Linked DNA regions of Homo sapiens. The protein of the gene in region 2 interacts with the protein of the main gene of each other region in a pairwise test. Each region holds a gene or a part of one and is shown on either strand. Other genes may lie near its edges.

Region 1 (5,540 bases), on a different chromosome or scaffold from region 2:
AGCCCACCACCACCCTTCCTGAGATTCTGGCCCCGTCTACCTTCACCAGCCATCCCTGCACCACGTGAAAGTTCTATTCAAACCTCAGGGTGTGGCGAGGCAGAGAATTGAAGGAACTTGCTGAAAGACATGTGGCCAGCTGGCGATAAGCAAGGACTCCATCCTGTAGCCGGCAGAGCCCAGGCTTTGCAGACAGTCAGACTTGGGCTGAACCCCTGCCACCTGCTGGCTACGTGACCTTCCCTGTCTGTGCTTCCATCTCCTCATCTGTAAAATGGGGATAAGCCCTACCTCCCAGGCTTGGGGAGGAGATGCAGTGACCACTAGGATGAGTGGCACAGTGCCTGGCACAGAGGAAGGCATGGGAGAGCAGCCCTCACCAGTGTATCAGTGTATCGGGCTCCAGGATGGGGGCAGGTGATGGCAAGAGAGCAGTGGCTGAATCAACAGCCCAACGACCAACCCTCCCAGCCCCAGCCACCCTGGGAAGGCTCAAGACCAGGAACACACAAAAAGGGTCAAGAACAAGAAATAACACAGGCCTTTTATTTGCTCCAGAACTTGGCTACTGTGTGGTCTGAGGGTGCCATGCTTTCCCAAAGCCCCCGAGGGACACTCCACCCAGGGGGTGCCAGATCTCTGTGTGTAGCCAGACTGCAGTGTCCCCCCAGGCTGCCTTAGTCCAGAAGGCCAGCTGCCTGCCACCGGTGCCCGGGACGAGCATATCCCCTGAAGCTGGAGAATGGTGTCCACCTTTGCATGGCAGCTTCTCCCAAGGCATTGGCTAAAATATTGCACTTGTAAATCAGGAAAACTGATGAGGCAAGGGTTTCCTATTACAGGACGACGTGCCAAGCATCCAACTACTATTTAAATAAATAAAACTCAAAGTGGGGGTCTGAGCTGCAAGCTCCAATGGCCCTCTAGGAGGGCCCGAGAGCCCAGGCCTGGACCTCCTGCCCCATCAGCCAGTTCTTTAAGGAACTTGGTCAACGCGAAGCCTCCGCGGTCTCCGCAGCAGGGAGCAGCAGCTCCAGATCTGGCTTGGCCAGGGCCCCTGACCTGCCAGGGTCTTGGGCCCCCTCGTACCGGGGCAGTGGGGACCCCACGGGGCCCATCCTTCTACTCCTCCAGTAGCCTGGGCCTCTCTTGGTCCAGGCCTCGCTTCCGTATGTCTATCCGTCTGTCCAGAGACACAGCCTCTGGGGGCTTGCTTGCCCCCTCCGTCACAGGGGGCAGGGAGGCAGGTGGGCAGGGGACCCAGCCCGCCTGGTGTGAACGCTGAGCTCGACTCCAGTGGCCCCTAAAGCGGGGGACTCATCTTCTTCTGGTTAATAAGGTCCAGGTAGAGGTCAGAACGGAGAAAGCGAGGGTACGAGTCCTTTTCCATGAGCCCGAAGATGCGCTTCTGTGCCAGGTCGAAGCAGCCCCGCGTGACGCTCTGCAGGTTGTCCTTGGTGTGCTCCCGCGTGTAGGAGTCCAGGTTGACCTGGGGAGGCAGAGGGGGACATGGTCAGGGCTGCCTGCTGGGGACTGACCCTAGGGCCCATGTGCCTGGAAGGGACCCATCCAGCCTCTCACCTCCAAGCCCCTTTGCCCCACATCTTAAGGTTCATCTGAAGTAGAGACCCTCAGACCAGAGGATTCAAGTCCTGGCTCAGTCATTTCCTGTAGGGCTGGCAGCATTTATAAGGCTGAAAATACCACCCTGAGGGTTAGGCTTCCTGGGTTCAAATCCTAGCAGTGCCACACCTGGGTGTGTGACTTGAAGCAAATTACTTAAGTGCGGTGAGCTTCAGTTGTCTTATCTACCAGCTAGGAATAATAGTACATTCCTCAAAGCGTGAAAACCAAGCAAGATCATCCATATAATGTGCTTTGCGCATAGTGCCTGGCACACAGTAGGCACTCAATAGATGGGAGCAATTATGATTTGTCTCTGTCACTCAGGCTGGAGTGCAGTGGTGCGATCTCGGCTCACTGCAACCTCCGCCTCCCGGGTTCAAGCGATTATCCTGCCTCAGCCTCCCGAGTAGCTGGGACCACAGGCGCCCATCACCACACCTGGCTAATTTTGTAATTTTAGTAGAGATGGGGTTTCGCCCTGTTGGCCAGGCTGGTCTCGAACTCCTGACCTCAAGTGATCCGCCTGGCTCGGCTTCCCAAAGTGCTGGGATTACAGGCATGAGCCACTGTGCCCAGCCTGTCTCTTCGTTTCACAGGTTGTTGTGTGGATTAAACATGAGAACGCATACATAAAGGGCTCAGCACATGCCTGGCATGCGGCAGTGCCTTGGTGGTGGCCATTTTTATTACTAACTGGGATTCTGTTCTTCCCCTGATCCTAGCTTGCATCTTCCCTGCTGGGTACCTGGGCTCATGGAGTCATTCTGGCCTCTCCCCTTCCTGTGCTGCTGGCTGCCACCTTGCAGCTGAAGGGCCACTGGGCCCTGGGGATTGGAGGAGCGGAGGGTCTGCCCTGAGGTCCTACCTCCTTGCATGCCTGGATCGCGATGTATTCAGCAAAGATCTTCTTGGCCTTGGATGCCATCTTGGACTGTGACTTGACCTTCTTGAAGTCCTCACAAGCCAACCAGAACTCCAGATTCTCCTCACTGAACTCAGTGCGAAGGAAGGCTTGGAACACTGCTAACCCGTCTGTGAGGAGAACGGATCCTGGGGTAAGAGGCAAACTCAGCCTCTCCTGCCCTTAAGATGCCTCAGCTTACCCCTACAGGACTTTAAAGATGGGCGTGCTGGGAGCTGAGTACAATGCCCGTCCCCGACAGCCAGGAGCCCTGGGATGTGGCCCCAGCCCTGCCACTGCCTCTTTCAGGGTCTCAGTGGGGTCTCCCCCTCTCTATGCCTCAGTGTCTTCATCTGTGAAATGGGGACTATCGATTCTGTCTCCCGGAGCCCTGGGAGGAGCCGATGGGACCCTGCCCATGAGATGGCAGGCACATTTGGCGCCGTGAAAGCCCTCAGTACGTAGAAATGTTTATTCTTATTCTGGGAATATGGATCTGAGCACACAGGTCCCACGGGCCTCCGGCAGGCAGTGCCAGCTCACATGGACGGGGAGGGGCTGGCAGAAGCTGGCTCCAAGGCCAGACCAAGGGCCTCAGCTTGGGCTCAGCCCCTCCGCAACAGCAAGGACACCCTGACGGCCGAGGAGAGGGAAGGCGGCCTCTCTAGCACCAGCTACACAGGGTCTGGATGGGGGCGAAGGGGAGAGGGAGAGAGGGCACAGGGAGTGGGCAGGCAGGCCCAACTTACATTTGTGAACCAGCAGCTTCTCCAAGGACTCGCCCCACTTGAGGGCTTCCTCTGAGGTGGGCCTGAGGGGTGAGGGAGGAAACACAGTGAGGGCACTGAGAGGCTTGGGAACCTTGGGGGAAGCTGGGCCAGGCGGCCTTTGTTTACTGCCCTGGGCCCAGTCTGCAGCTGAGCCCAGCTGGGGCGCCCAGGAAGGAGGCCCACCCTCTTTCCCGGGGCCAGGGTCCCTTCCAGCCCCCATCTCCACCCCACCTAGCCTTCCCCCTAGGGCAGCTGCTCCCTGTGAGGGTAGCTGCTTGCCAGGTACCCAGCTCCCTCTGTGAAAGCCTGTCTCCCCCAGAGCTGGATCAAGCCGGCAAGCCCCTTCCCCTCAACCCTACCACTCAGTCCTACTCCCCGGGGAGCCAGTGAGTTCCCCAAAGGGTCCCAGGGTGCCAGGGAGGACCTACTTGAATGACTTCATCATTTTGTCTGCCTTGCCCGCGGGAGGGGCTCCAGGGGACTCATTCCGCCGTCTGAAGATCCCCAGCTTGTTCTTCATGTCCTTGGCTCTGGGGACAGAAGCAGAAAAGAGGGTTGCTCAGCCTGGCCCACTCGCCCCTGCAAATCCAGAGTCGGGAGAGCTGGGTCGAGGGCACCTACTCCTTCATCGTGTGTCGCCTCTGCAGGTTCCCGTTGCGAGTGAGGTACATGCCTCGGAGCATCTCTGTAGGGCCCCCCACCTTGGGGCCGCAGATTGGTCTGTAGGAGGCACCACTCTGGCTCCTGTCCCCCACCCCGCGTCCTGGGCAGCGGGCAGCAACGGTGCAGGCTGCAGCCACACACGCTCTCTGGAATCCTGGCCTGATGACTGGACTCCCAGGCACAAGCCGGGGCTGGGACTCAGACAGGAGGAGCCAGGAAATGGGAGGGACCAGGAGGGGGAGCGGAAAAAAAAATTCCTTCTGGCCAACCCTGAGAGGGAGCCGTGAAAGGGGCATGTGTCTGCAAGGGACAGCCTCTGGGGCCGCCCCGGCAGGAAGCCAGTCCCAGCTATTTGTGACTGGCCTCCTCGTTACCATGGCAGCAGGGAGACAGTGGTGGGGGGTGGGGGACAAGTCAGCAAATTGCTGAAAGGGAAGGAGGGAGCCAGGGGAGGCACTGCCCACCACCGGGGTGGCAGGACTGGCTATTTTTAGCCAAGAACCATTTTTAGCCTTGCCGGTCCCCAAGGAGGCAGCAGAATTCAGCACTGGGTGAAACTGCTGGCAAGAAAGGAGTTAAATGCCTCTTGCTCATGTTCGCCCCTCTTTTCCCTAGACCCCCTGTACAGGGCACCTCCCAGAGAATGGCTCCTGCCAGCCGGCCTCTCAGCCTCAGTCACCTGCATTGGCGACATCCAGTCATGAATATACAGCAGGACCCCAACATCTTAGTAGTTTTAAGCCTGAATAACTTCAGAAGTACAAGTCCTATAAACTTACAAAAACACCATTTTAAAGTTTAATTATTTAATGTTGTGTGCATGGTTTTGTGATTTTCGAATAATAAATGTTTCACTTTAAGTTTTGGTCTCCATCCTCCCAAAGATGGAAAATGCTGACTCAAACCAAAAATGAAAATGAAAAATTGATTATTCAAAAATCACATAACTAAAGACGTGCAAAAGAAATTTAATAATTAAACTTTCAAGGGGGTTTGGTAAGTTTGAAGCATTTATACTTCTGATGCTATTCAAGCTTAAAATGGCACTAAGACCTAGACACCCTGTCTAATGAAGGAGAGTCCTGCAGGGGAGGCTGATCCCAGGCTCTGGAGCTAGTCTTGGGTTCAAATCCCAGCTCCAGCAGTTACCAGCTGTGTGCCCTTTGACACGTTTCCTGATCTCTCAAGTTTCCTATCAAGGTTTTTTCTCTGTCAAGCTGTTTCCTCAAACAGAAGCCAGCAGGCCAGGTCTCCAGGTCCCAACCCCACCACTTTCTTGCCATGTAACTTAGCCTCTTTGCACAGTAGTTTATTCACGTGTAAAATAAGGGTAAGGTCAATAAGAAAGAACAGAACGGAAAATAAAAGTAGTGGTAAAGATTAAATTAGATTACATATGAAATACACACAGAACAGTGCGGGGCATAATAAACATTAATGGTTATTCTTATTATTACCGTAGATGTTCTAAGACTCTTCGTCTAAGCTTTTAAGAGTATGACCTTCAGAGGCCAGGCATGGTGGCTCATGTCTGTAATCCCAGCACTTTGGGAGGCCGAGGCGGGAAGATCACTTGAGGC
Region 2 (7,028 bases):
AAGAGTCTTTTAACAAATTTCACTGAAGGATGTCAGTCTTCCTTTTTTCAGTGAATTAGAGACATCGGTGCAAAGAATATGAATTATTAATCATCTTAATTCAGCTAGTTAGCAAGCTGTATCACATTTATTAAAATCACTTTTATTTCTATGGGTTTAGTTTCACCATTTATTAGGAGGAAAGGAAGCAAATTTGTGAGGGAGCTCTGGGTTGTCAGGAAAGGCTTTTCAGAGTAGTAAAGCAATCAAATGAGAATAACTGATTCAGTATTTGTTTCCTTTGTCTCTTTGGTTTACTTTTTAGTTTTGTAGAACACTTGATCACTACCATCTCACTTGGTCCTAGTTGATGTATCATCTACATTTTTATTCAAGGTTTAATATAAAATGCTATAAAAGGCTATCCTAAACTGGTTTTAAGCATATTTGTTTTGTTTGTTCAGCATAAAATACACAAGAGGATTTTTATGGAATGGCTCCTTGTTACAAGGTACTTTGCATTTATAATCAGCCACAGTCACCTCAGTTTCATCCCGTATCTTACAAGTATGATGTGCTGTATACTCAAAGCCTCACCACCTGCTTGCCCCACCCATTTGCTTAAATGTATCAATTTTTTCTAAGCTTAACTTTTACCAAAACTGGAGTTCAACAGATGAATATTTTTCCTTCTTAGATGTTAACTAAACATTTTTAAAGGTACAAAATTTATGTACAAACATAACCCAAATGACATGGAAGTTACTTGATTTGTGACTTACCTCTGTAATGTTCCCCTGGCCTACTTGAAATTCCTACCTTTCCTCTAGTCTAGTATCTTATTCTCAGTTATTCGGAGGAAGTTAGGGACCTAGAATTCTTGTTTTCAGAGCAGTAGAATTTTGCTAACATAATTCAAAACATTTATCCCTATCTTGGGGCTTGAAGAGAATGTGAAATGCTTTATCTTCTGTTTTGAGGGAATGAGGGAAGGAGCTTGTTCTTAGGCAATTAACAAGTAAATTTAAATAAATAATCCAAATCTGGTGTGGGTAAACAAATTTTAGTTTTAGGAACTTTCAAAATTAAGTATGCTTCCCCTTTGGGTTCCAGATTTTACAGTAATACTTTTTGAAAGCAGTAAGATAAAAATTTCAGGACCTCAAGAGATGGGTCAAAAGAGTTTCACTGTAATATGAATTTTGAAGCCAGAACTGGAAATCCCCTGTGCTGTGTCTTCCTCTTCGTGGTAGTAGAGGTTACAGTTATCAAATAGTCCAGAGAAGCAATGGGAACTTATGATTTCTGATAGAAAAATTTTAACAGAGATGTACTTGTATGCAAATAATATATGATGCCTCAGTTTCCTCCAAAGTCTTAGTTAACAGAGTTAGAAAAAATCAGATTATATTTGAAGTTCTGTGTTCATACTGGAGTAATTATTATTCCAATGGTACAATATACAACATAACTTTATTACATTTTTTGGTACAGCATAAAGATGATTTTCCCTTTCTCTGAGTATTTCTGAAATTTAAAATGAAATAAGTGTGGTAGAAGCCATTATTTATGAATTATCATGCTAAATTAATTAACTCATTAATTCATTCAGGGCACACCCAGTTATTCCCCAAACTGAGTGATGTATTTCTGGGAATAGACTTATTAAGCTTGAGAAAACCCAAAGGATCATTATAACAGCAAACAGGAATGTAGGCATCCACATAGTGGATGACTTTAGTGACCTGGCACACAGTGCCTTATCTACTTGGCACATGTACAGGTACAAGGAACACTTAACATTTTGCACCAGAGCTTATTACATACCACTTTCAATGCTTGAGATATTATATAAATGCTAAAATTCTAAAACCTATAGTAAAGCAAAGACCCAGATTTTATACTGCAGTAGTTTTGCCAGTAAGTCTCATCCTCACTAACTTATCTTTTAAGATTAAAAATAATGTAACCAAGTGGGAAGAAAAAGAGCAAATATGAACAAATTGTCATTGTTTTAGAATCTGCTTCTTTTCCTTTCCGGTATTTCTGTGCAAGGAGAGAATGATCTCTGACCTTGTGAAAGGCAAATACCATGTGTATTCATGGTTGTTATTCATTTGGCAACGACTTGAAACTCATGACACTCCCTGCTGAAGATCCTCCACCTATTCTTAACAGCTGGGCTCCCCAGCTCCTGGATCACCAACCAGTACCAGTCTGTGGCCTGTTAGGAACTGGGCTTGTACAGCAGGAGCTGAGCAGCTGGAGAGTGAGCAAAGTTTCATCTGTATTGACAGCTGCTCCCCATCGCTCACATACATTACCACCTGAGCTCAACCTCCTGTCAGATCAGCAGTGGCATTAGATTCTCATAGGAGCAAGAACCCTATTGTGAACTGCATGTGTGAGGGATCTAGGTTGCGCACTCCTTATGAGAATCTAATGCCTGATGATCGGTCACTGTCTCCCATCACCCCCACATGGGACTGTCTAGTTGCGGGAAAACAAGCTCAGGGCTCCCACTGATTCTACCTTATAATGAATTGTATAATCCTTTTGTTATATATTACAATGTAATAATAATAGAAATAAAGTGCACAATAAATGTAATGCGCTTGAATCATCCCAAAACCATCCCCTGCTTCACTGGTCCATGTCTTCCACAAAACCGGTCCCTGGTGCCAAAAAGGTTGGGGACCACTGTTTACCAGGATGCATAGCATGGGTTTATGAATTCCCTATCTTTGCAGCACATCCTTTATTTCTGGCTTGCATGGGACTTGAAAGCCTAAAACAACTAAATGCTAAGAAAAATTATTTTTAAAATGATGACAAAAATATTTTCTATTTCAGATGTATAGATCTGCAATCCAGAAACTATGAATTTTTTTCAGTTGAGTAGTCTGTTTGCCAAAAAATAAAAAAAAATAAAAAATAAAAACTTGCCTAAGTTTCTTCTCTTACATTTTATTTAGGATTTGCCCTTAGACATTATTTAGTGCTTTTCTGACCCTGTAGGGACGGTGAGAATAATTGAAACACTAGTTTCTTAAAATTTCTGTTAAAATTGGTTAAAGGCCATAGAATTTTTTTTTTAAGCTAAGCATGTTATAGAGAGGTATCCTATAAGAAGCAAGGGGCAGGTAAAGACTTTAGAGATGTATAGTCCAGTGTGTTAATTAAAGGATACTACCTACTTCTAATTCGGTATGTATTAATCTTTTCTGATATATCTGTTAAAGTACTCTTCGCATATTTTTAAAAAATTGGCATTTTAAAGTATAGTCTTTGATGGTAGAAATGTGAGATTGACAAAAATCATGTCCTCTTATGTATGAATTTAGTCTTACACAGTTCTTCATATGATGGAATCTAAAACAAATGTAGTCTTGAAAACTTTTAGTCTACTTTGGTTACATGTGTTTATTATTGCTCACCTTATAGATTAACAGCAGAAAAGTATAAATTTTAATATTTCTACCTTTCTGGCTTGAGGTCTACAGCATTAATTTCTGACCAGTTAATGCAAACTGAGATTCCTATTGTCCTAAGAAAATCTGGGAAGTTAGTAACACAAACACATCTTTTGATTTATTTCAGGACCACATAAACCCATTTTGAATTATTCAACCATTGCTGAACTTCTTGAGTATGTATAATTAAGAGTTGACTATAATTGGAATGTTCTTAAGACTTTAAGTTGATTATAAAATTTTGTGCTTAAAGTTGGCAATAATCAAAACAAAACAAACAAACAAAAAAAACCCTTTATTTTAAAACACAGTCTTGCTCTGTCACCCAGGCTGGAATGCAGTGATGACATCATACTTCATTAGACCGTCAATATTCCAGGCTCAAGCAATCCTCCCACCTCAACCTCCCGAGTAGTTGGGACTACAAGCGCATGCCACCATGCTTGGCTAATTTTTTTTTAGTAGAGACAGTGTCTGTCCATGTTGCCCAGGCTGATCTCAAACTTCTGGACTCAAGTGATCCTCCTGCCTCAGCTTCCCAAAATACTGGCATTATAGGCATAAGCCACCATCCCTGGCCAAAAAATAATTCTGAAACAGCAAGGAGGAAGGCGGTTTCTTCTTGGGAAGTCTTGATTTTAGTTGAGCATGTAGAGGGATCACTTGACTTATTAACCACTTAGGATTGCACAGTAAGATAATTTAAAGGGTAGCCAGCACTGGAGTGGGCCTGGGAAGGGGATGGGCAGTTTGTGTTAGTGTGTGTGGGTCCAAGATAAAAATGTTGGGTAGCAGAGTTTTGCCTAATGCATTGTCGCTAAAAGGGATGAAGGGCATCGGGATCTACAGGAGATGGAAAAAGTAGTGACAGGATAGTAGTGGGAAAAACTAGGATCGGATCAAGGCACTGGAAGGCAGAAATATTGAGTAGAATGTTTGCTGCAATTTATGTTTCTGTATAAATACCGAGTACAAAGTTTCACTTGGGTGGTCAAGGTGCTATGGCTGTGACAACTCCTGAGAGTGGGTTTTCTGGTTAAAAAAAAAAAAAAATCTCTGAATGCACGGAGTCGTCTCAGGCCTTCTCAAATTTGCAAAGAACAGGTCCACAAGACCTACATTTCCCAAGATAATTGCAGTAGTGTGACCTGATAATTAACATTTTTTGCTTTCCTGCTGGAACATTCCTGGGGCCCAGAGACTGGGCCAAGCATTTCCAGTCCAAAGACTGGGAACTGAACCAAGCATTTCCTTTAGATTGTTCAAGTTGTGAAGGTTGATGTTATTAGCTTGGTTACTACTTGGAGTCTTAGCTCATAGTGTGTCTTTATGGCTTTCTGCCTCACTGGACCCTCTTCCCAAAAGGCTTTAGAATGTGTTCACCATCATGAGCTGACCAACAATTTCTAAATTCCTACTCAGAAACACAGCAAGGGGAATGCAGTCAAGCACAAAGGGCTTAAATGACCAGATAAGGCTGGGCTGGATGAATAAAGAGGAATATCCTATGAATGTGACTGTGTAGTTTTAGAGTATCCCGATTCAACTGTTATATTTGACTTGTGGCCTTGTAGACAGTGTGTTAATGTCAGATCTTCTTTTTCAGAACTGTTTTAATCATGGACAAACAAAGTAAGTAATTTATTTTAAATGTTTACTTTCCTCCTTATAATGTTAATCTGTTGGTAACTTGTTATTTGTCATAATGTTTTATTCAGTGTCTGAAAGTGTATAATTTGTTTTCTGTTGTTTATGCTCCAGAATACAATGTCTAGTTCAGTATTTTGACTATAGAGAAGATGTACAAAAATAGCACTATCACTAGGTTCTTCATTAAAAATACGAAAGCCTTTTGGAAAGCTAAGAAATGCTAGATTTATTGGGAAATATGTTCTGTAACATATATTTAAACCACAACAATATTCTCTTTGTGTATTTTATATGTATAAAGATTATTCAAGTCATACTAATTAACAGATAATAAGATTTGAGTTCATTGTAATAAACTCCTCAGATACACACCTCAATGTATATTTCATCACAGACACATGTTTGTATTTTAAGTAAATACCAGTCATTATGTTCTGGCTTTTTTTCTCTCAAGAAAATTCTAAGTAAGATGGATATTTATCAAGCAAGTAATAAAAGACTGTCTTATTAAGATATCAAGGTTCTGAAGAACAGAGGGAAAATTATGTTCAAAATTCCCACTACATAGGGAAAATTAAATTCAAAAATTAAATCCTGTTTTTCTGAAACGCTTTTCTTTATTCTCTCTTTCATCTTTGTTGAGGTAACAAAAAAATATTTATCTGTCACTACAGTGTCACCCTTATTAGATATATGAAATAATCTCCAGGACTAGACTCCTTGCTTTTCCCATGTGAAGTTTTATGATTTTCTTTTTACTTACAAAACTCAAAGCTTTTTAAATGTAAATTTATATAGAATTATACTGGTTTATTTGCCACAGACTTTAAGTTGATTCCACTCAATTTACAAAAATGTATCTGGTGATGGTCATAGGCAACTTTTAACTCTTCAGTTTTGTATATATAATTGTATGTATGTATGAATGTATTTGCATAAATAGAAATAAAATGTGTATATGTGTGTGAATAAATGTGTAAATATGTATATATACATACATGTAGACATAAAAAAAAGTACCTTTAAGACAATGTGATAGACTTGTACTTCTTATAAGCCATTTTAAGTTGCATTTCAAAAACGCAGTAATCAAACCATAATTAACATGCTCTTTGTTCTGCTTGAACACCTGCCCATTCACTCATTCTCCTTGTATGAATTCCCCCTGGAATGCCTGAAATCAGAATCATTGCTTTGGTACCAAAAGCCCAGAGATTGTGAGCTCATGATTTCTTGAGTCTGTCTGTTCCTGTATATGTGTGTGTGTGTGTGTTCTATGTTATAGTATTCAAACAATGTTGCTTATTAAGAGGTATCACAATGTGACATACCTGTCAAGGGTAGATCTTTACTTCAGACTTGCAAAATATTTTCTTGAAATCTATTCTGAGTCTGATGCTGTGTTTCCAACTTAATTTGGGAGTAGGGGCTGCAGGCAGGGCCTTATTAGCTAGAGAACTAGGGAGTTAGGTCAGTCACTTGATGCTGAGAAATAGAAGAGAATGGATGGGAAAGAATGATGGGGAGTTTCAGAGATTTGTGATGATTCACAAATCACAAGGTATGTTGCAATGTTTGTCCAGGGAAAAGTCCTCATTTGTTTTTTGTTGTTGTTTTGTGTTATTTATTTATTTATTTATTTATTTGAGATGGAGTCTCGCTCTGTCGCCCAGGCTGGAGTGCAGTGGCACGATCTCGGCTCACTGCAACCTCCGCCTCCCGGGTTTAAGTGATTCTCCTGCCTCAGCCTCCTGAGTTGCTGGGACTACAGGCGCGTGCCACCATGCCTGGCTAATTTTTGTATTTTTAGTAGAGATGGGGTTTCATTTTGTTGGCCAGGCTAGTCTTGAACGAGTAGGAGAGCGGTTTTTTTGCCTGATTTTACACAATCACCATGGACTGGATTCCGCTGAAGTCATCATGAAG
Region 3 (7,748 bases), on a different chromosome or scaffold from region 2:
CTTGCTCACACGATGATTTTAACATCTGCCCTCCAGAATCATTAAGAAAGCAAATTTGTTGTTTTAAGATTGGCCAGCCAAGGCTGCTGTGGAATTTAGATCCGTGTGTCCAGGAAACCCAGGAAAACAACTGGACCTACTTTTGCTCCGTAGGGTGCAGGAGGATGGATTTTTGTGTTGGATTTGTGGTCCCATGGGCCTGGGCTCGCCTCCCAGCTCTGTACACTAGCAATTCTGACACTGGCCAAGTCACTTGACCTGCCTGTGCCCCACTTCCCTCCTCTGAATGGCAGGGCAGTAACACCACCCGACAGTGTTCTGGAGAGGACTGGAAGCAATGCTGTGTGCTGAGTCCCTGGCTGGCAGCATTCTGGAGAGGACTGGGTGGAATGCCATGTGCTGAGCCCCTGGCTGGCAGCGTTCTGAGAGGACGGGGTGCGATGCCATGTGCTGAGCCTCTGGCCCATGTCGGCCTTGACAGTGCAGCTCTTTGCATGGAACAAATCAATCCCTCTGCTGAGTCAGAACTTACTCTCTGTTCCTGGTTGTGCCCAGAGACCGGGGACTTTCCCTCTTCTTCCTACCTGGAAGTCAAAGCAGAGCTGAGCCCTGCGGACCAGAATGTGGGCAGCCTCATTCTGGACTCAGCATCACCAGAGGACACCAAGGCCTGGCCCCAGGAGTAGGGAGCTCAGCCTGGCTGGCCGAGACTGCCTGCCAGCTGGAGCCAGTACGTGGCCCTTAGCCAAAGTGCCCTGTTGCCTCAGAGGCTCCACGGTCCTGCTGGCCACCTTTCATGACACTTTGATTTTAGCCTTCTGACCTCCAACACTGTAAGCACAAATGTGTTGTTTTAAGTTGGCCAGCTAAGGCTGCTGTGGCATTTGGATCCATGTGTGTCCATGAGGGCTCTGGGGGTGACCGGGAACATTTATCCTCACAGCAACCCCGGCCACTTTTACAGATGAGGAAACTGAGGCACAGAAAAGTTCAGTCACTTGCCCAAAGCTACACAGCTGGTCGGCAACAGAGCTGGGATTTGAACCCCAGCACCCACGCTTCTAACCACCACACAGGCTTCCTCTCATGAGGAAGCTCGGAACGTCCTTATTCCTGGCTCTCGCAGTGCTTCCTGGGCCACACAGCAGGTGGTTCCAGCTTCCCCCCAGCCCTCCAAAGAGGCTGGGCTAGATGAGGCCAGACAAGAAGTGGGAGTGAGGTTTCCAAGCCAGGCCCTCATGGCACTCAGCCCTCCTCAGCAGGACATGAACCGCGTGACCTTCCCCCACTGTCGGCATGTGGAGAAAGCGTGACTCCGACTGCCAGATGGGTCACCGAGTGAGGCTCAAGTGTCCCAACCCAGGGGAGCCCCCGTAGGGTAGAGGGGAGCTCTGGACACCTGTGGGGGCTGCACTGATCGTCTTTCTTGTCTGAGCTCCAAGGCCCCGCTTTAACTCTCTCAAACTCTCTGATGTGCATAGGAGGATTTTCCTTCTGAATCCAAAGATTAGAAAGTAAAAACCAGTTACCAGAATAATAATATGTCAGAACCTGGAAGAAGCTCTGGGATCCCCTCTCTGACAGAAAACCAGAAATGGGGTGACATGCTCAAGGTGGCACACGCTGACCCTAAGGCTCGCCCAACACCGGCAGCCCATTCCAGCTTCCCCCACTCCCTCTATGCAGGTTCTACCTTGGGGGCTTCCATAGGGTGGCTGAGGGGTCATTGGTGACAGCCAGGAGGAAACAGGCCTCCTTTCTCCATTCTTCCTCTCTGGAGTCTAGAAAGCAGAGCTGAGCTCTGCAGACCAGAACATAGGCAGCCTCATTCTGGACTCAGTATCACCAGAGGGCACCCAAGCCCAACCCTGGCCTCTGCTGAGGTGGCCCCTGGCAGCTTCCCTGCCCTCAGCACCCTGCCTCTGCCCACCCTCCCCATTCTGCCTCCCCACTCAGGAAGGGCCCATCAGCCCACCCACTCCAGCCCCTCGGGAAGCTCTTTGCCAAGGCAGGGTGAGATCCTGTGACAGGACCCAGCCCAGGACACAGTCACCCCTGAAGGCTCCTGGGCTCCTGGGGCTGCCACTCCCATCTGGGGGCATTTGGCAACTGGCCTTTGCCTCCCTGAACCTTGGATTTTCCGTGAATGAAGGGGACTCATAAACCTCACAGAGTTTCAGCAAGGCACCTGCAGCCCTCTGACCCCACACTGCAGGGACAGTCCCTGCCTCCGTCACCTCTGAGACTGTCCGTCTACAGATGCCCTGACATGCCTATGCCTGGTTAACTCCGCCTCACCCTTCAGAGCACAGACACCTCCTCGGGAGGCCTTCCCTGCTGCACCCAGACTCCCAATAACATGAAACACTCCCAAAGCACCTACAGTGTGTCAGGCACTGTTCAAACACTCTAGATACACTACTTCCTTAATCCATATCCCAACCCTGGGAGTGGGGGGCTCAAGTATTATTCCCACTTCACAGATATGGAAACTGAGGCCCAGAGACCACCAGCCAGTAAATAGCTGGACCCAGGGAGGCCAACTCCACAGTACGCACCCTTAACTACCATGCCGGGTAGCATCCTTACTGTCCCAGAAGCATGCTTGCTTCCTCTTTACACAAACCATCCCACTCTACACCTCTTCCCCTGAGCGCACAGGACAGGACAGGACAGCTCAGCCAACACTGTCAAACCCATGACTCATGGGAGGAGCATCTCTCCAGGCATGAGTGAGCTCAGCATGGCACAGCTGTGCCAGGACGACCCCCACTGACATTTCTGCCCTGCTTGTGTTCTCTTTGGGATGCCCCCACCCCTATCTCCTGCCACCCAGGAGTTGCTTCCTCAGAGCCCCAGAACTGTGTCCCCCTGGCTGAGGCAGCCCTGTGCCCACGGCCCCGGAACTCACTGGGCTCAGATAGGGAGCCTGGCAACCGCTGAAGGCCATCTCTCCACCGCCTCTGTGGCCACCACTGCCTTTGACACCTGCCAGGCAGTCCTTTGCAGAAGGAATGACTTAACAAAGTAATAGAAACCAAAGCAACTTGGCTGTTATTCAATGGGGAGGAGCCGGCAGCAAGAGGAAGTGGGTCCAGAGAGAGAAAGGTAGGGTGTTGGGTGAACTGGGGTGACACTCATAGAGGGAAGTAGGCACTCCCAGCCCCAGTGACCTTTCCCTCCTCCCTCTCCTGTGCTCAACCCAAGCCTGAAGCATATTTGGTTCATAGAGGTCTACAATGCTTGACCACACTGACATGACAGTGAGTTGCCAGATGACACTGCCCAGAAGTATGTGGCTGTGTGTCCTAAGCATGCTTGGCCACTGGTTCCAGAAAATAATGGGGCTGGGTATTGCCTGTGCACAGGGTGCTTGTGGGGAAGGGTGGCTTCAACTCATTTTACATATAGAGAAGCTGAGGCTCAGAGTCTGAGGGACATGCCCCAGGTCACACAGCTAATTCGTGGCAGCCTGAGCTATATGAAGATTCTCAGAATCTTCAAGAAGTATTTCTCCTCTTTAAATTTCTATTCTTCATGTTAAAACATAATTATGTAGAAGGGAATATTTTGCATGAAAAACACTATAATGAAGATTTTTATTCTAGAGTATGGGGTGCCCAGGAGCTTCTGATCCTCCCCCTCAGTGAATCTCTCTTTCTTCTCTTCTCCATCCTTATTTTGTGAGCTTTAGGATGGGGAGAGAAGTATTGGACATAATAGAACATTTCAAGTGACATGGGAGTGGGAAGGAACATATGGCATGAACTGCCTTTAATTGGCTTCAGCACCTAGTTAGGGGAAATAATTGGCTGAAACAGAGAATAACAGGATAGGCTGCAGAGGGGAGAGGGAGCCATGAAATAAACTTACCTGAAGTTGACCAGGTCCCAACGATGTGCTGGCGAGAAGGCCCAGAACTCAAGCTGGGGATGGGCGGGTAAGGACCATACAGGCTCGAGGGGATGGCAGGTGCCCCAGGGCCATACGTAAGTCTGCACCTCTCTTCCTTCCTGTGTTCTGCCTAGATGCACTAGAATTTGCAGACGAACTCCTTTGAGATGTTCCCATAGACTGAGGCCGTGTGTGTCGTCTGCACTCACCATCCCATTATGTTCTGGATCAAGTAGAATTTGACCAAGTTAAGGAGTAGACAGTACAAGGGGAGCAGAAAGGAGAGAAAAGAAGGGAAATTCTTTGCAATCCTCTCGAATACCAGGAATATTTTCATCACGTCACGTCATTTGTAGCAATCACCAATTGATTGGGATATGGAACAACTGGAACTATCATTCATAGCAGACTTGAGTGTAAAATAATCCAACTTAGAAAAATGGGCAGGGCGTGGTGGCTCATGCCTGTAATCCCAGCCCTTTGGGAGGCTGAAGTGGGAGGATCACTTGAGTCCAAGAAGTTGAGACCAGCCTGGTCAAGATAGGAAGACCCTGTCTCTACATATAATTTAAAAGGCAAATTAGCCAGGTGTGGTGGTGCACACCTGTGGTCCCAGCTATGTGGGAGGCTGAGGTGGGAGGCTCACTTGAGCCCAGGAGGCCGAGGCTGCAGTGAACCCTCATCACGCCACTGCACTCCAGCCTAGGTAACAGAGCAAGACTCTGTCTCAAAAAATAAAAAAAATAAAGAGAAAGAAAAACTGCTTGGTGAGTTGTAATATAGTCAAATATCTACTTCAAAGTTGCTGGCTTTTCTACTTCTGAAAAATTACCCAAGAGAAAGGAAAACATATTTGTCTGTTTTTAAAAGCTTTACTCGTCATAGCCCCAGGCTGGTAACAATGCAAATAGTCACCAACAGAAGAAGGGAGAAATGAATTGTGGTTTTCACACTACAGAGTGGCCCTCAGCAATAAAAAGGAGCTAGGCCACAGGAAACGTCAATGAGCCTTGCAACTGAGCGGAAGAAGCCAGATCCAAACAGACACATGCTGTGAGAATTCCATTCGAGTCAAGTTGAACAACAGGCTAGAGTGGCGTTACCCTTGGGAGTCACTGACTGGGAGGGGCACGAAGGAGTCTTCGAGAGGCTGGAAATGTTCTGGATCTGGTTCTGGGTGGTGGTCCCACAGGTGTTTACATCCATTAACAACAGGCTGAGGCTGGGTGCAGCAGCTGACACCTGTAATTCAGCACTTTGGGAGACTGAGGCAGGAGGATTGCTTGAGTCCGGGAGTTTGAGACAAGCCTGGGCAGCATAGCAAGACCTTCTGTGTACTAAAAATCAAAAAAATTAGTGAGGCATGGTGGTGCATGCCTGTAGTCCCAGCTACAGGGAGGCTGAGGCAGGAGTATTGCTTGAGCCTGGGAGGCTGAGGCCACAGTGAGCTATGATCGTGCCACTGCATTGCAGGTTGAGTGACAGAGCAAGACCCTGTCTCAAAACAAAACAAAACAAAACAAAACTCAAACAGAAAACCAGGATCTGTACATTTTATTCTACCTAGACAATATCGCCATAAAATACTGCTAAAAGAAAAAATCTCCCAGAGCCCAAGGAGACACAGGCACAGCTAAGAGTTCCAGCAGTTTAGCACCTTAGCATCACCTTGAGCCTTGGAGGTGAGTCACAGTTAAGCAGCTTCACTAGTGAGTCCAGCCCATAAAGGAGGGCCCTCTGCTCCATGCCCTGTCTGGAGGGGCCCCAGTAAGGTCATACCCAAAGGCTGACATGTTTTTAGACTAATCAACACAGTAGGGAGGCACTTCGAGGCACAGTGCCAGGCCACTGAGAGTTCTGACTTCGGCACCCTTCAGTCACCACAATCCATTCCCAGTGGTTAGCTCTGGTCTTCAGGAGACTAGAAGCAGCCCTCGGGAATGTTCGTGCTCAGAGCTCTAGTGTTCAAAGTCACAGACCCTTCTCAGAGGCTCTCTCTTCTCTGCCCTATAGACTGAGGGAGTCTGCCACCTCACACTCATTAGGATGCCTATGATTAAAAAAAAAATCCAGAAAATAACAACTGTTGGCCAGAATGTGAGTAAACTGGAACCCTGTGAAAACAGCGTGGCTGTTCCTCAAAAACCTCATCATAGAATTACTATATGATCCAGCAATTCCACTTCTGGGTATATCCCCCAAATAACCAAAAGCAGGAACTCAAAGAGACATGTGAACACCCACGTTTGTAGCAGCATCATTCACAAAAGCCAAGAGGTGAAAGCAACACGTGTCCATCAACGGATGAGTGGTCAGCAAAATGTGGGCCAGACATACAATTCAGCCCTAAAAAGGAAGGAAATTCTGGCATATGCCACAACATGGATGGTCCTTGAGAACATTAAGTGAAATAAAACAGCCATAAAAGAACAAGCACTGTAGGCCGGGTGCGGTGGCTCACACCTGTAATCCCAGCACTTTGGGAGGCCAAGGTGGGAAAATCACCTGAGGTCAGGAGTTCAAGACCAGCCTGGCCAACATGGTGAAATCCCGTCTCTATTAAAATTACAAAAAGTAGCCAGGCGCGGTGATGAGTGCCTGTAGTCCCAGCTACTCGGGAGGCTGAAGCAGGAGAATCGCTTGAACCTGGGAGGCAGAGGTTGCAGTGAGCTGAGGTCACACCACTGCACTCCAGCCTGGGCAACAAAATGAGACTCTGTCTCAAAAAAAAAAAAAAAAGAAAAAGAAAAAGCACTGTATGATTTTACTTGTCTGAGATACCTAGAGTGGCCAGAATCAACAAAAGAAAGTAGAATGGTGGTTAGGGGCTGGTAGGAGGGGGAATGAAGACTTATAATTTAATAGGCATAGAGTTCTGGTTTTACAAGATGAAAAGAGTTTTGCGGATGGATGGTAGTGATAATTGTATAACAGCATGAATGTTCTTAATACCACAGGTCTACCACTTAATATTGGCTCTTGGCTAAGATCTTAGCTGAGGCCATTGACTGGAACACCTGCAAGTGGCTTTTCCACATGGCTTGGGCTTCCCCACAATATGGTGGCTGGAGTCCACGGGTGAGCATTCCCAGCGAGAGCCAGGTGGAACTTACATCCCTTTTATAACCTAGCCTCAGAAGCCATCCAGTGCCATTTCCACCACATTCTATTTGTTGAGGCAATCACATGAGCACCACCCAGGCTCAAGGGGAGGGGAAAGTGACCTCACCTCTAGACAGGAGGCAGCAAGAGGTTGAAAGAGCACCTGGGACCAGGAATATTTGGAAAATTCAATGCCTGCCGCAGACAATAAGTAAGTGCTGGACTCCTCTGGGCACTGGGGTACAGAGAGAATTGGACATAGTCCCAGCCTTAAGCATCTCATATTCCAAAGGGTAAGATGGATATACAGCTGGGCTACATGGCTTCAAGGAGGAAGTGCACACAGATTTTTTTTTTTTTTTTTTGAGACAGAGTCTGTCTCTGTCGCCCAGGCTGGAGTGCAATGGCGCCATCTCAGCTCACTGCAAGATCCCCCTCCAGGGTTCAAGGATTCTCCTGCCTCAGCCTCCTGAGTAGCTGGGATTACAGGCACCCACCACCACACCCGGCTACTTTTTTGTATTTTTAGTACAGACAAGCTTTCACCATATTGGCCAGGTTGATCTCGAACTTCTGACCTCAGGTGATCCACCCACCTCGGCCTCCCAAAATGCTGGGATTACAGGTGTGAGCCACCGTGCCCGGCCAAGATTTTTTGTTAAAGTTAATATAGTTGGTTATGTGCTGGACATCATTCTAGGTGTCTTACAATTAACTTTATGTCAGTTTTATGAAGCAGGCACAAATAATAA
Region 4 (7,028 bases), on a different chromosome or scaffold from region 2:
GTGGCTCACACCTGTAATCCCAGCACTTTGGGAGGCCGAGGCGGGCGGATCACAAGGTCAGGAGATCGAGACCATCCTGGCTAACATGCCGAAACCCTGTCTCTACTAAAAATACAAAAAATTAGCAGGGTGTGGTGGCCAGCTCCTGTAATCCCAGCTACTTGGGAGTCTGAGGCAGGAGAATGGTGTGAATCTGGGAGGCAGAGCTTGCAGTGAGCCGAGATTGTGCCACTGCACTCCAGCCTGGGTGACAGAATGAGACTCCATCTCCAAAAAAAAAAAAAAAAAAAAAAAAGTTACATGCAAGGAATTTCTCAATACTGTACCATCCTGGCCTATTTGAGACAATTTTAAAAATAAGTGGCCACTTTCAGTTACTGTAATGCACTTATATCAAAGACAGGAAGCATGCAAAGAAAGGATCATTTAGGCACTACAACTGTACAACTGTAACAGCTTTAACTCTTTCCTCTTTGCACATTTAGAATTTGACATTCCTGTCTGATGCAGCAGGAAGGAAGAAACAACATAGAGAAGCAAAGGAAATTTACTTTCAATTGTTATTAGCTGTAGTCTCAGGGGTCAAAGATGTTTCAAGCAGACCAATGTTTCCCCAAAAGCAAAAAAAAAAAAGAAGGATCTCTTTTTAAAAGATATGGTTAGTAGTAATAGGTCCAAACGTTCTTAAGGGGTAAAATCCTAGAAACTCAGCAAGATACAAAATAGTCATCGTATCAAGAATTCAGTTCAGAATTTCAGAAAATCAATATTGTTCTTATCATATAGCCAGGAAATGGACTTGGCCTTATAATCTACTGTTAAGATTGTCACAAATAAAATATTTGAGCACTGAATATGTTTTCATATAATCAACCTTATTTCATCTTTAGAAAATCCCTATGAGTATCTCCATTTCACAGAGGAGGAAACAGGCTAGGAGGTGAAGTCGCAGAGCTAGTAATTATAAAATCCAGGACAAAGAGGCTGCCATTCATACAGGGTGAATTTCAGGGGACAGGTAGGAAGGTGACTACCAACATTTCACTCCTCACCATATCCTGGATTCTATCAGTATTTCTCTGCTTAAGGTAAAACATCCTCTTAGAGTTATCAATGGGTGAGTTAATTTAGTAAATTGCTATTTGCCATTTACACACTATGAATTCTCTCAACGTTGCTTTTCTTAACTGGCAAAGAACAAAGCATTGGGGCTTTGATAGAAAAAGGAAGGGAGCTTTCAGATGGAAACATAGGGTGTTGCCTGGGAGGGAGCAGTTGAGGGACAGGTTATGGGGCAAATAGAGAAAACAAGAGTAAGCAAGAAAGTGACTTCAGCAAATCAGGGCTGGTACGAGAGAAGGAGTGTAGCAAAGACACATGCAGGGAGATGAGCTGACCAGCCTTGAAATCAGGGGTGCACAACTTGAAGTTTATAAACCAAAAAATAAAATTCTAAGGCCCCTCAACCATCTGAATGGGTCCCTCCTCTTGGCCAAGGGCATTACAAAGTTAACCTGAAAAATAAGTTTAGGCCATGATGGAACAAGGGAGACAGACATGGTTCATTATACCCTCCCTCCCCTTTTGGAATCACTGATAGAACAGACCCTTTAAGACCCCTAAGAAATATTTACAATCTATTCTCTCTGAAGCCTGCTACCTGGAGGCTTCATCTGCATGATAAAACCTTGGTCTCCACAATCCCTTATTGTAACCCAATCATTGCTTCCTACTGATAATAATTCTTTCAATCAATTGCCAATCAGAAAATCTTTGAACTGCCTGTGACTTGGAAGCCCCTGCTTTCAGGTGTCCTGCCTTTTCAGGCTGAATCAATGTACATCTTACATGCATTGATTAATGCCTTATGTCTCCCTAAAATGTATAAGACCAAGTTGTGGCCTGACCACCTTGGGCACATGTTCTCAGATCTCCTGAGGGCTATGTCACAGGCCATTTGTCACTCATATTTGGCTCAGAATAAATCTCTTCAAATATTTTACAGAGTTTGATTCTTTTCATCAACAAGTTGATTTAAAAAAAAAAATCCAGAAGGCGTTTAGAGAAAGTTAGGGAAATAATCTAAACACAGCCCAGAAAACAAGGGGATTGTGAACTGAGACCCTCCTAGCCTAGGGGAAGAAATGTGTCTAGATCAATTCTCAAAGTCCACTGTAGCTGAATTCCTGATTTCTGACCATTTCCAAAAAATGTGTTTATTCTTTCTTCCTCAGGAGCCAGCCCACCATCATGACTGTTAAGCATGCTATATATTAAATTTAAGTAAAAGAAAGAAACAATCTTTGCAACTCCTTGTGAGCACATTTTTTCCAAGAGACATCTTCACAAGGTTGTAACTCGATGTCTTCTATCCAACACCCATGTGGGTGAACGAGGGGTAAGACCCATTCGAGTTGGCTGTATAATCTTGGGGTTCTGGGGTAGAAATCTGCAATTCCACCCCACCACCCAACCCACTTCCAAACACACATGATCCTCTGAACTGCTCATCAAATACTTTGTGTGCCAAACAGGCCAGTAGTGACATTTCTGCCAAGTCATCTCTGCAAAATTGTTTGAAATCAAAAGTAGGAAACTAAAGAAGCAGTTAACAATTCTCTTGTACCTTGAATGCTTCTTTTAAAAAAGGCCTTACATCCTTCACACGACCAGACTCCATAGTGATATCCCGATGCGTAATCGCTGCAGACAGCGCAGAAGTGAGCATCCCTCTTTGAACCTGGACCAGTAACAGGGCTGGCGCAACGGTTCCCACTAACCTTCCTTTTCAGTGTCTCTCTAGGGAGCAAAGAAAATATCCATTGAACAGAGCATAAAAGGGAAAGGAAGGGCTTTCTAGGAAAAAAAAATAGCATGAACATTGCCTAATTTAATCTCTTTTTCCTCCAGGGTTCCTGGTAAATATATTCCCGGAAATCTGATACAGCAAAGCTTTTGATACTGATATCATATCTACAAAGAGCCACGCTGTGGGGAATGACTAATGTTTGAAAGTGGGTAGGTGAGTTTATGCCCATCCACGTGATGCTGATGAGCATTTGTCACTGCCGAAGACCAGTCATAGCCATGGGGTGGGAGCTACATCTCTAAGTGTAATGAAAGGAGTGGCCAGATCAAATCTTACCCACAGGTCTGAACCACAGGCAGGATATGCATTGGTCTTCTGTAGTTACTAGAGTTCACGAATGCTGCATGGATGGGTGTGAAGGCATTCAACCACTTCCAAACATCAGTCATTCCCAACAGCATTGCTAAGCAGCCCTTCAGACATTTGAAGTTCCCATTTAAATGGAGAACAAACATCTCACACTCTGCAATTTCAGATAAAGGTCTAGATTTAAAATAACTTTCAGGTTGGGCGCAATGGTTCATGCCTGTAATCCTAGCACATTGGGGAGCCAAGGTGGGCGTATCACCTGAGGCCAGAAGTTCGAGACCAGCTTGGCCAACAAGGTGAAACCCTATCTCTACTAAAAATACAAAAATTAGCCAGACATGGTGGTGCACACCTGTAATCCCAGCTACTTTGGAGGATGAAGCAGGAGATTGCTTGAACCCGGGAGGCAGAGGTTGCAGTGAGCCAAGACTGTGCCACTGCACTCCAGCCTGGGCAACAGAGTGAGACTCCATCTCAAAAAAATAAAATAAAAATAACTTTAAGAGGAATAACAAATGGACTTTAAGTTACCTTGAGATGAATGTGAGACAAGAAAAAGGGGGAAGAGAAGAGAAAGGGAGAGAGAAAAAAGAAGAGAGAAGAGAAGAGAGAGAACAAGCAAGTGCCTGGCCTGGAAAGGCTTGGAAGGAAGCAGAGGCTCAATGCTGGACCACAGGCAAGAGGTTCATAAAGGAACGAAAAGTCTAACAAGGGATCCCCAGGCAGCCTCCAAAACACATCTGGCTAGTTCCTGATGTTGCCAGGCATGGTTCTTTTGGAAAGGGAATGGTAAAGGTATTATTGATTTATAAATGAAGGTAATTATATAATGGATTAATTTGCCCAAAAATTAGCAGAACTTTGATTATAATTCATGCTCAGAAACAAAATATGTCTTCCTTTAAAGGAGGAAGGAGAAAAAAAAAACAAACCATTACTTTAAAAAAGTTATCCACAATGTTTATATTCTCTTTACCAATGAGTAAAATGTTTTTAAAAGAAGAAAAATAATGGTGCAATGTTACTGTCTCAAAGTTTTATGATAATATTTGAAAGTAGTGAATTTCAATATCCAACATGCCCTTAGTACTTTTAGATTTTTATCTCCCCCTCTCCTTTCTCATTATACTATCCATTCCCTTCATACCTATGATTATCATTAGAAATATTAATAATTAGATGGAAATAATCCATTATGTTACCTTGCATTTAAAGAGTACACATATCCTTTTTAACTTCAGGGAATGTCAACTGAAGCCTAAACTTCAATAGTTTCCACCAATCTTTATATAATGTTATTATTTTAGTTCATGGTTAAAAAGCTTATACCAATCATCTATCTTTTCATGCTTCGCATGTCTAGAATTTCATTTAAGTTGTAATACTATCACAGTTACTTTTATCCTGGAAACAATTTGTCATGAACATTAAATTGTGGTTTCACTATAAGAAGACTTTGAAACTGAAAGTAAAGTAAAAATTCATTTTTCAAATCCAAATAACTCCATTAAGAGTGACTTAAGTTCAGACCAGGCACAGTGTTCATCACGTCTGTAATCCCAGCACTTTGGGAGGCCAAGGCAGGTGGATCATTTGAGGTCAGGAGTTCAAGACCAGCCTAGCCAACATGGTGAAACCCTGTCTCTACTAAAAATTTAAAAAATGAGCTGGGCGTGGTGGCACGCGCCTGTAATCCCAGCTACTCGGGAGACTAAGGCACGAGAATTGCTTGAACCCAGGAGGTGAAGGTTGCAGTGAGCCGCAATCGTGCCATTATACTCCAGTCTGAGTGACAGAGCGAGACCCTGTCTCAAAAAAAGAAAAGGAGTGACTTAAGTTCAGTATTTACTGTATAAAGACAATAGTCATGATAGCAAATTCTCCCCACAACACTGATGTACACATACCAGTTTTTAATGAGAACTAAAATATCAGAATAGAACAGGGCATCCTGTGTTTTGGGTGCTGTAAGTAAACTATGTAATTAATACAATAAAGACCTTGTCTAACATATTATTTCCTTCTCACTCAACCATAAAGTGATTTGAGAAATGGCTAGCAACTATAATTCAGAATGAAGACTGGACTTACCTGTTTACAGGTAAGGTGTGTTCTAGCGATCTTGCTTCACACCAGGGACTCTTTTGAGGTTCCGCATACAGATGTGATAACTGGCGATGGACCACTAAAGGAGAAAGGTGCCCAGGTGTTGGCCACAACACATTTGGGCTTGTGGTCTGCCGACCAGGCCCACCTTCCAAGTTAGTGACATTGCTGGGAATGCTGTAATTCATCACAGCAGGGCTATAGAATGTCATGGCTGGATATTCATGGTGGCTGTCTACATAGGAGGAAGGTATGTATATGGAGCCGTGCTCCAGGGGTAAGATGGATTGACTGCAGTTGTAGGAGGAAGGAGAATTAAGGCTAGATGGTGAGTTTTTTATATCCATGTCTTGAGATAACAGCTGAGAAAACACCTTGCAAGAAGAGGCACAAAGGTCATTATAATGTTCTCAAAGATTCGTGGGCAAGTATAATGGCTGTAAAGAAACACAGAAGATATTGCCAAGTTAGAGCTACAGCTGTTAACTATGAAAATTTAAATATTTTCATTAAAAAAATACATACGTTTGTATGAGATTACAAATACATCCTGAAAAATATACATGAAAATATTAACCTCAGAGGAGTGGGAATGTGAGGCATGAAACTCACATTTTCTGCTTCATTCATCTCTTCATTGCTTGTTTGTTTAATCAAGAGTTTAAGCACAAGAGTTTAATCACGAAAATTTATTATAAAATAGTCTTTAAAACCAAAAAACACAGGATTAAATAAAAATGAAAGTTCTTATGGAAAAATAAGCAAGAATAACCAAGTAAACGCTAAGAGAAGATCAATGAGCAAGGCTAGTCTCAACCAATATTAAAATACGCTATGAGGCCAAGCGTAGTGGCTCACGCCTGTAATCCCAATACTTTGGGAGGCTGAGGTGGGCAGATTACTTGAGGTCAGGAGTTCGAGACCAGCCTGGGCAACATGGTGAAACCCCGTCTCTACTAAAAATTAGCCAGGAATGGTGGCATGTGCCTGTTGTCCCAGCTACTCAAGAGGCTGAGGTGTGATTGCTCAAGCCCAGGAGGCAGAGGTTGTAGTGAGCAGAGATTGTGCCACCGCGCTCCAGCCTGGGTGATAGAGTGAGACCCTGTCTCAAAAAAAAAAAAAAAAAAAAAAAAAGAGAGAAATTACCATTTCCGAAAAAAGTTTTTAAAAGAAAGAAAACACATTATGAATCTCCAATAATAAAAAACAATGGGTATTAGCTGAAGAGACTGACCAGTGTAACTGTGTCACTTATCAATCTGTTGCTTCTCAGTTTTGTTTTGTTTTGGTTTTGTCTTTGTTTTTGAGACAAGGTCTCACTCTGTCACCCAGGCTGGAGTGCAGTGGCATGATCTCGGCTCACTGCAACCTCCTGCCTCCCAGGTTCTAGTGATTCTCCTGCCTCAGCCTCACGAGTAGCTGAGACTATGGGTGCGCACCACTGTGACTGGCTAATTTGTTGTATTTTTTAGTAGGGATGGGGTTTCACCACGTTGGCCAGGCTGGTCTCAAACTCCTGATCTCGAGTGATCCACCTGCCTCGGTCTCCCAAAGTGCTGGGATTACAGGCATAAGTCACCATGCCTGGCCTACGTATCAGTTTTGAATGTGCCCTTCAATTTATGCTCTAAAAAACAGAATTTTTGTATGTAAAGTGAGCACAAGGCTGGGGGTGCTGGCTGATTACAGGCAAATCTTTTTTTTTGAGATGGAGTTTCACTCTTGTTGCCTAGGCTGGAGTGCA

Evidence for each region.
Region 1: the proteins of PLSCR1 (region 2) and RGS3 interact in binary tests that used the Homo sapiens proteins (3 or more experiments, as listed by UniProt).
Region 3: the proteins of PLSCR1 (region 2) and LGALS9C interact in binary tests that used the Homo sapiens proteins (3 or more experiments, as listed by UniProt).
Region 4: the proteins of PLSCR1 (region 2) and ESR2 interact in binary tests that used the Homo sapiens proteins (3 or more experiments, as listed by UniProt).

What each region holds. Positions count from the first base shown.
Region 1 is NC_000009.12:113,592,717-113,598,256, reverse strand, and holds the end of RGS3 (regulator of G-protein signaling 3), read right to left. Parts: intron 4,129-5,540; exon of another isoform or gene 3,981-4,128; coding exon of another isoform or gene 3,919-3,980; intron 3,828-3,918; coding exon 3,726-3,827; intron 3,339-3,725; coding exon 3,277-3,338; intron 2,659-3,276; coding exon 2,492-2,658; intron 1,490-2,491; coding exon 1,304-1,489; 3' UTR 519-1,303; downstream 1-518. UniProt on the Homo sapiens protein: Down-regulates signaling from heterotrimeric G-proteins by increasing the GTPase activity of the alpha subunits, thereby driving them into their inactive GDP-bound form.
Region 2 is NC_000003.12:146,534,596-146,541,623, reverse strand, and holds part of PLSCR1 (phospholipid scramblase 1), read left to right. Parts: intron 1-443; exon of another isoform or gene 444-467; coding exon of another isoform or gene 468-490; exon of another isoform or gene 491-2,872; intron 2,873-3,579; exon of another isoform or gene 3,580-3,628; intron 3,629-5,058; coding exon of another isoform or gene 5,059-5,071; coding exon 5,072-5,084; intron 5,085-7,028. UniProt on the Homo sapiens protein: Catalyzes calcium-induced ATP-independent rapid bidirectional and non-specific movement of phospholipids (lipid scrambling or lipid flip-flop) between the inner and outer leaflet of the plasma membrane resulting in collapse of the phospholipid asymmetry which leads to phosphatidylserine externalization on the cell surface.
Region 3 is NC_000017.11:18,472,057-18,479,804, reverse strand, and holds the start of LGALS9C (galectin-9C), read right to left. Parts: upstream 3,017-7,748; 5' UTR 2,951-3,016; coding exon 2,912-2,950; intron 1-2,911. UniProt on the Homo sapiens protein: Binds galactosides.
Region 4 is NC_000014.9:64,277,355-64,284,382, forward strand, and holds part of ESR2 (estrogen receptor beta), read right to left. Parts: intron 5,722-7,028; 5' UTR 5,632-5,721; coding exon 5,270-5,631; intron 2,800-5,269; coding exon 2,627-2,799; intron 1-2,626.